2 linked regions of the Homo sapiens genome follow. The protein of the gene in region 1 purifies or fractionates together with the protein of each later gene. This does not show direct contact. Each region holds a gene or a part of one and is shown on either strand. Other genes may lie near its edges.

Evidence for each region.
Region 2: the proteins of CPEB4 (region 1) and NBEAL2 purify together in Homo sapiens (tandem affinity purification; one large-scale study listed by IntAct). This does not show direct contact.

What each region holds. Positions count from the first base shown.
Region 1 is NC_000005.10:173,950,849-173,954,348, forward strand, and holds part of CPEB4 (cytoplasmic polyadenylation element-binding protein 4), read left to right. Parts: intron 1-975; coding exon 976-1,090; intron 1,091-2,242; coding exon 2,243-2,424; intron 2,425-3,500. UniProt on the Homo sapiens protein: Sequence-specific RNA-binding protein that binds to the cytoplasmic polyadenylation element (CPE), an uridine-rich sequence element (consensus sequence 5'-UUUUUAU-3') within the mRNA 3'-UTR.
Region 2 is NC_000003.12:46,989,433-46,993,458, reverse strand, and holds part of NBEAL2 (neurobeachin-like protein 2), read right to left. Parts: intron 3,949-4,026; coding exon 3,866-3,948; intron 3,791-3,865; exon of another isoform or gene 2,567-3,790; coding exon of another isoform or gene 2,551-2,566; intron 2,241-2,550; coding exon 2,155-2,240; intron 2,054-2,154; coding exon 1,771-2,053; intron 1,620-1,770; coding exon 1,513-1,619; intron 985-1,512; coding exon 904-984; intron 1-903. UniProt on the Homo sapiens protein: Probably involved in thrombopoiesis. Plays a role in the development or secretion of alpha-granules, that contain several growth factors important for platelet biogenesis.

The sequences.
Region 1 (3,500 bases):
TTTTCTTTCTGGAAAAGTTTATCATAAAATTTAGTCTTTAGGAAGAGGAGCAACTGGCATGTTTTGATGACTCTGGCAAAGCAGCAGTTTATTATCACTCAGCCAGCACCCAGTGAATGATGATAGTGCAGAATGGAGTTGTCAGTGGGCCCAGCTTAAGCAAATAACATCTGTGGAGCTTCTCCTGAAGTCTTGTGGTTGTCTAGGTCAGAAACTTTCGAAGAGTTCCTGTGGTCTGGACTCTTTCTGCTTGACTTGTTTATGTTCCCTGCCAATCCCCATCCGTATTTGAATTTGGGACCTCTGACCTAGGACTCTGTTGGTGTGCATATTTGGGAATACACTGCTGTCAACCCATAGCCTTTGGTGTGGGCATTTGTGACAGTTAGAAAATGTGAACAGTTTTAAATGAGGTACATGATTCTTGATTGACTTATCTAATGGATACACTGAAGTATTTGTCATAAAAAAAAATCTATTGCAAATATCATCAGTATTTTTACTTTGAAAACCATTTTGAAATAATGCATCAGATTTGATAGTATCAGGAGTAGTTTGCATTTCCTAGACATACACTGATTGGACACACAATTCTTGTTTACTTAGTATTGTATATTGATTGGCATTGGATACCATGCTAAAAATTTAAATTATGTAGATATTGAGGCATTGGACAGACTAAAGGCCCAAATAAGCTGAAAAACAGTGAATTAACTTACAAATAATTGTGGACATGTTAAGTAATTTGGCTTATAATAGACAATCAAATTGAACTTTCCACCTTGGTTTAGTTTACTTCTAAAAATGAAACGATGGGTTGGGATACACTGTTTTTAAATCTTCTAGTTTCCCAGCTTTATTGACTTGTAATCATAGGATTATTGCTTTTAAAAATACTTTGTAATAATTGTTAACTTTTTTGCCCATGAATTGTCTGTATTGAGAATGAGACATTTTGGTTTGTACATTCCCTAGGTCCAGATTCGGCCTTGGAATCTCAGTGACAGTGACTTTGTGATGGATGGTTCACAGCCACTTGACCCACGAAAAACTATATTTGTTGGTGGTGTTCCTCGACCATTACGAGCTGGTATGATTAAACAAACGACAAACTCTCTACCCTATAGCGCAAGAAATATGAAGATCTTCAGGATAAATTTTTCCTAAGAATTGGAGTTAATATCCAAGAGTGAGAGTTCTAGAATCAAAATATCTGGGTTTGAATTCATGTGTTCTAATAGTTAAGTGACCTTGGACAAATTCCATGACTTTTCTAATTCCCAGTTTCCCCATCTGTCAAGTAGGGATGAAAAGCGTTTCATCCCTAGGATGAAATAACACCAGAAAAAGTATTTCCTAGTGTTATTTTGAGGGTTGAATTAGACGACCAGTGCAAAGTACTTAGTCTAGTGTTGCATAATGCTAATTATTACGCTCATCATTGTCTGAAAAGAAAAAAAGTCCTTCAAGAATAGATTCTGTATTGAGATTGTCAGTATTTGTTTCCCACATCCTCATTTGCTCAACAGCGACTGACTGAGCTCTGGGATATAATAGACTTCCCAGCAATGCATCAGATTTTTAGGGTAGTACTTACAGAACAAATTAAATTCCTAACTTCAAGTAATTTGAGGTTTAATAATATACATGAGATAAAAAGACATAACATGAACAGGAATGTAGCTGCACGATTTTAACACTTCATAAAGAAGAAAATGCAGTCATTATTTCAAGGTTTTTTTAAATGAAAAATTGGTGAACTGACTGTGGGGAAAGAGTTTTGATGGAAATAAGCCAGGAGGGCCCACAAAGAGTCTACCAGTTAGTTTTCTAGTGTTCAAGTAATTATTACATTAATCAATACATTATTAACTGGTAAATCTATGGCAGCAACATGGCACAGAGCAGGCAAACATGGGAGTACTATCACTTAATGACCTGTGACCTTGGACAGATGGATCACCCTTTCAGCACCTCAATTTCCTCAGGAAATTACTACCTACTTCATATAGTTGTGAGAAGAATAAAGAGAACATACTAGAAAACACCTAGCAACCCCTTGCCCACAATTAAAAGATTAAGGCTTAACACAATGGATGACTGGTTGTAGTAATGTTTCATTTTAATAATTATTATAATGATGTGAGCTCAGAGTACAGATGAATTGCTTTTGATGAAACGGTTGGTGAGCCAGATGAATTTTCCTGATTTTAAATATCCTCCTTGTTCCTTTCTTAATTAGTGGAGCTTGCGATGATAATGGATCGGCTATATGGAGGTGTGTGCTACGCTGGGATTGATACCGACCCTGAGCTAAAATACCCAAAAGGAGCTGGGAGAGTTGCGTTCTCTAATCAACAGAGTTACATAGCTGCTATCAGTGCCCGCTTTGTTCAGCTGCAGCATGGAGAGATAGATAAACGGGTAAGCCTTATACTACATTTTGGAAAATTCTAGAAATGGTCCTCTAAATGTGTGATTACCAATATTAGAACGGGAGCATTTTATGACAATAAAGTGACAGCTGACAATTTTGCCTATAGAGTTAATTATGGTCTATAATACATGAAATAATGTCCTATGAATTTCTTTTATCTTTCAGTTTTTTGAGTAGCCTAATCAGAACACTACAATTTACTTGAGTTAATTTAATCTTCTCTAACTTCCATTCAATCTCAATCCATCCGTCCATTCATTCACTTAGTTTGTAAGTCATTCAATAAATATTTACTGAATCCTTTGTTCTGTGTTATATCAAGTATACAAACAGGAATGCCCTTGAGGTTTCCTGCCCTTTTTTTTGTTTGTTTTTTAATCCTGGGACATAGGGAAGACCTCAGCAAGCCCTATTTCTCAATGAATTGTACTCACAGATTTCTTTTTTTTTTTTTTCTTTTTCCACAGCCGCCACCTCTCACCGATTTATTCCTTAGCTTGGTGTTTCATGTATTCAACAAACGTTTTAGTGCTTAGGGCAAGAAGTTCCTGTCCTCATGAGTTTATTTCCTAGCAGATAGAACTGTATCACTTGCCAGTACTACTCAGAGTGTGGCCTGTGGACTGACCTCCAGTCTGTAAACTTAGTTTGTAGTGAGATAGGAATTTAGACCAGAATGTGTAATCAACCACATTACTGGGCACAATGTTTGGTCCAGCTGGCGATTTTTTTTTCATAGAAAGCCTTTATTGATGAGGGAAGCAATATATTGATTTATATTTTGGGGTCACCTTTTTATTTCATGGCACACTGGCACTTTCATGCATGCTGACTTTGATATCCATCACTCTGAGGCATTGTGCTAAAATAGATTGATTTTATCGTGTTGTTCTCAATTCAAGATGTAAAAATCATCAAGTCAGTAGCAGTTTTTGCTTTTTATGTTTCATGTCATGTACAGTCTACTTCACTGGCAGTAAAAAAATTTAAGATAGTGGTGGTCATCCTACAAACTGTGAATCTATTAAAGAGAAAAGTATCTGTTCTATTCTAAGCATGGGGG
Region 2 (4,026 bases), on another chromosome or scaffold:
TCCCCCTAGATCCAGGTGGGGGCACTGAGGCTCAGCCTGGCTGAACCTGACAGCCAGAGGCATGCTGCTGCCTCTCCTGCCCCACCCTGAGGGGGTCAGGGGTTGGGAGGGCTTGGAGAGTTTCTCAGCAGGGACTAGGTCATATTCGGCTCCATGGGGCCTTTGGTCCCAGCTTTGCCTGACTCCCCAAGTGACCTAAGGCATCAGTCCTCCCCCTCCAGGCCTCAGTGTCCTCATCTGTAAAAACAGAGGGGAGTCACTTTGCCCTGCCTGCTTTGCAGATGAATAGACGTGTAAGCTCTAAGAAAATGACCACATGCGGTGAACACATAGGGTTACCTCATGAAGACAGAGCCAGGGTAGGGGCTATGGAGGTTGGGGCCCACAGGTTGAGCCCCCAGAAAGGGTGCCCGCTGTGAAGCTGCCAGCTGACACCCTGCAGCCTCCTACAGCCCACATGCAAGGTGAATCAGGGATCACATCATCAGGGGCTGGGGGACACCCAGTGACCCGCTGAGGGTGGGTGCAAGAATCTACAGAAAGAAATGGCACCATGAGGGAGACCCCTTTCTCTGTGACTATAGCCAAATCCTTGAGTGTCTGGGCTTCTGTCTCCCCTTCTGAGAAATGAGGTAGGTGGCTGAGTTTCGAAGGTTCCATCCAGCTTGGCACAGCCAGACCCCCAACACCCAATCAAACACCAGGCAGGGGATAGACCACCTTCTGTCCTGTTCCCTAGGATGGGGACTTGGAAGGCAGGCGAGACAGCATGGAGGACCCACACCCATTTCTAGACCACACCAGGCCTTACACACATCTGCTCATTTCCCCAGCTATAGTGCAGGAAAAGCTCAAAGAGGGAGTCCCAGGGGGTGTCTGAGCTGGTCAGCCCCAGGATGGTACCTTTTGGACATCGGGCTCAGTCAGTAACCGGGTAGCCAGGTCACTGTCCCCCTCGGGGGGCGCCCGGGACTGCAGGTACAGCTGTGGGGAAGTGGGGAGGCACAGGGTGGAGGAGGCAAAGAAGAGAGGAGGAAGATGGGAGAGGGTGGGGTTAGAGCAGGACCAGGGGCAGCTGCCAGGTGCCCTGCCCGGCACTAGGGAAGAGTAGGGTGCTGAGCCCCCTGTGCCCTGCTCAGATGGGCAGTCGGGGGGATGAGCGGGTGGGAGCAGGCACTGCATCTGAAAGCAGTGGTGCCCTCCTCTAGCCCCTGTACTTGGGGCCACGGAAAGGGAAACAAGGCACCAGAGCAGCTCCCTTCCTTCCATAACAAGCCCCGCTTCCATGGGGCACAAAGATGTCCTAAGCCTCAAGCCCAGTCCTATAGAGGCCCCAAGGGATGGGCCCTTGTCCATGCCCCACACCCTCCCACTGAACTGCAAGCCATCCCACCAGCTGCAAAACACTGACTCTGTCCAGCCCATGTTTGCTCAGCAGCAGCCTGGCACCTATGCGTGGCTCCCCTAGCCTCTGGCTTCCAGACCCTCACCCCCAGGCTGGGCCCTACCCACCTTGCTGTTCTGAATGAGCCGAGTGAGGTGTTCAAAGCAATTGTTGCTGAGGAAGGTGGCTTGCAGCACTGGCCGGTCTTCACATGCCAGCATCATGGGGATGGCGTCTGTGGAAGGGTCAAGGGTCAGGCCCTGCCCAGACCCCTCTAGGCAGCCTTAAGCCTTCCTTCCTATGCTGCCCTATCCAGACCTTCCATCATCACTTAGGCTTTTCCCTCATGGTGCCCCTTCCCCAAGAGCCTGGGAGCCCATACCCACCGAGCATGCTGACCCGGAGGGTGACAAGGGCCTCTTCGGGGCCTGAGCTCAGACCAGCTGGCCAGTCAGCATTAAGGACATGGAAGTAGCTCTCAAGCAGGGCACGAAGCTCTGGGCCACGAGGAGGTGCGCGGCTGGCATGCAAGACATGGACTGCACCTACCAGTGCCTCTAGAGCCAGTGGCACTAGGCACGGGTCCGGGGCTGGCCCACGGCTCCAGCCCCGCACCACACTCAGCAGGCCCTTCACAGAGCCATCACTTACAGCCATCTGCCCGTTCTCCTGCAGGTGTGGACAGAGATGGGCAGTGGGCAAGGGGCTCACCCAGCAGAGAGATACTGAAAGAGCTGCTCTCTAGTCCACAGGCTCACCTCCCAGCCTACCTTTCCTCCAGCGAGGACGGCGCAGAAGAGGTGGATGAGACGTAACAGCAGTATGGGAGGCAAGTGGTCTGCATTCTGTAGGCTCTCTGGGTAGGGGGGTGTGGGCAGGGTAATGTCACCAAGGTTGCAGGGCTATGGACCCAGGGGGCTGCACAAGAGGTGAGTGCCCTGGGGTGGAGGGGAGAGGGAGCTGGGCCAAGTAAAAGATCCAGTGTGAGGGATAAGAGCTGGCTCTGCCCTGGGGGGCATCTAAGGAGTTATGGCTGTATAGTAGAGGGCCTGAAAGGGACAACCCTTCTTTGGGGGACTTAAGGGTGACAAAGACCAGCCCTGAGAGTCTAGCCAGCTTCCCAGATCCTTAAGCCCCAAAGTGAGGGCCCCAGCATGAGCACATACCCTTCCACTTCCCCATGATGACCAGGGCTTAGTTTCTCAGATGCAAATCTCTTGCTGCCTCTGCCCTGTGACGGTTGGTGCTTCCCATGCCGTGCTCTGGGGACTCTGCTGTATCTACTATACTGATGCCACCTCCCCCCACGCCCATGCCTTTGCCTGGGACTTCTAGGGGCTTTCACAACCTAATACGTAGGAGGCCCACCTGGCCCTGCGCCAGCAAAACTGGACAGGATGCCAGGCCAGGGACTGAAACTCAGAGGGCAGAAGGGACTAGCCCCGGGTCACATGCCTGGCAGAGGAGGAAGAGTAGGGCTGGGGCTTGATTCCGGCTGGATGGGTGGGAGGCCTCCTTGGGGATGGGGCTTTTGAGGGGAGACCTGAGAATGCAGTTGGAGGGGAGAAGGCACAGCATGGGCTAAGACCCTGAGGTGGGGTCAGTGGTAGCAGTCTGGGAATGAGAGGACAGAAGCCAGGCTGAGCAGCAGGGCAAGTGGAGAGAAAGGCTGTGGGAGGAGTAGGATTTCATCTTGAGGACGTCAGGTTGACATCAAGGGATATGATGGGAGGAGAAATGAAATCCAGTTTGTTTTAATAACAGCACCCAGGCTATGGGAAAATAAAGTCGAGGAGCTCCCTAGGGGTGCCTCCCCTCCTGGAGTTGCTGCCCCAACTCTAGATCCAGGCCCACAGCTCCATGGGGGCATCACTGAGACATTTAATATCCCAATAGGTCACCACCTTTTCACAGCCCTGCCCACCTCTGTCCAGGCCATATCCCACCCTGAGCCTATCTAAAGTCCTGGCCAGTCTCCCTCCAATGAGAGGAGAGAGGGGACCCAGGGGTGGAGGGTCACCAGGGAGAACAGGTTCACAGGACCACCTGTGAACAGGCAGCCACAGCTGTCCTGGGCACCAGATCCTCCAGCAGCCAGGGAACAGGAGGTGGAGATACCTCCTGTGTCTCCGGGATGGGTGGAGATGCGTGGAGGCTATGGGGACAAAGGGATTGGACCAGAGAGTTTTAAGATCACAGTAGGGTACAAGTGGCTAGAAGGATCCAGGAGATGGCGGGGAAAGAGGATGAGAAATCTGGGTAGGCAGGTTGACCCCACCCCTCCACCTGATGGGAGGCCCTCGCTCCAGCCCAAGATGTCTTCTCTTGTCTCTGTCCCTAAACTCTTGCTTGGTCTTTGGTTCTCCCAGTCCTGCATGCAGCCACCACCAAGTGGTTCCTGTGTATGGCAGGATCAAGGAACGACAGGAAGGGGCCTAGGTTTGGGGGTGGAGCCAAGTGGGGGCAGGGGCGGGGCCTGACCTTGGAAGAAGGCGCTGAATTCCTGGGGCAAAGCAGCAGGAGGGAACTTGTATTTGCTCTTCTCCTTGGAGCTGATGACTTCCCTGGGGGCAGTGAGGCCAAGTACATCAGCCCGGCTCTCACCACTCCTGGCCGTCACCCCTCCTTGGGCCCAGCGCGGC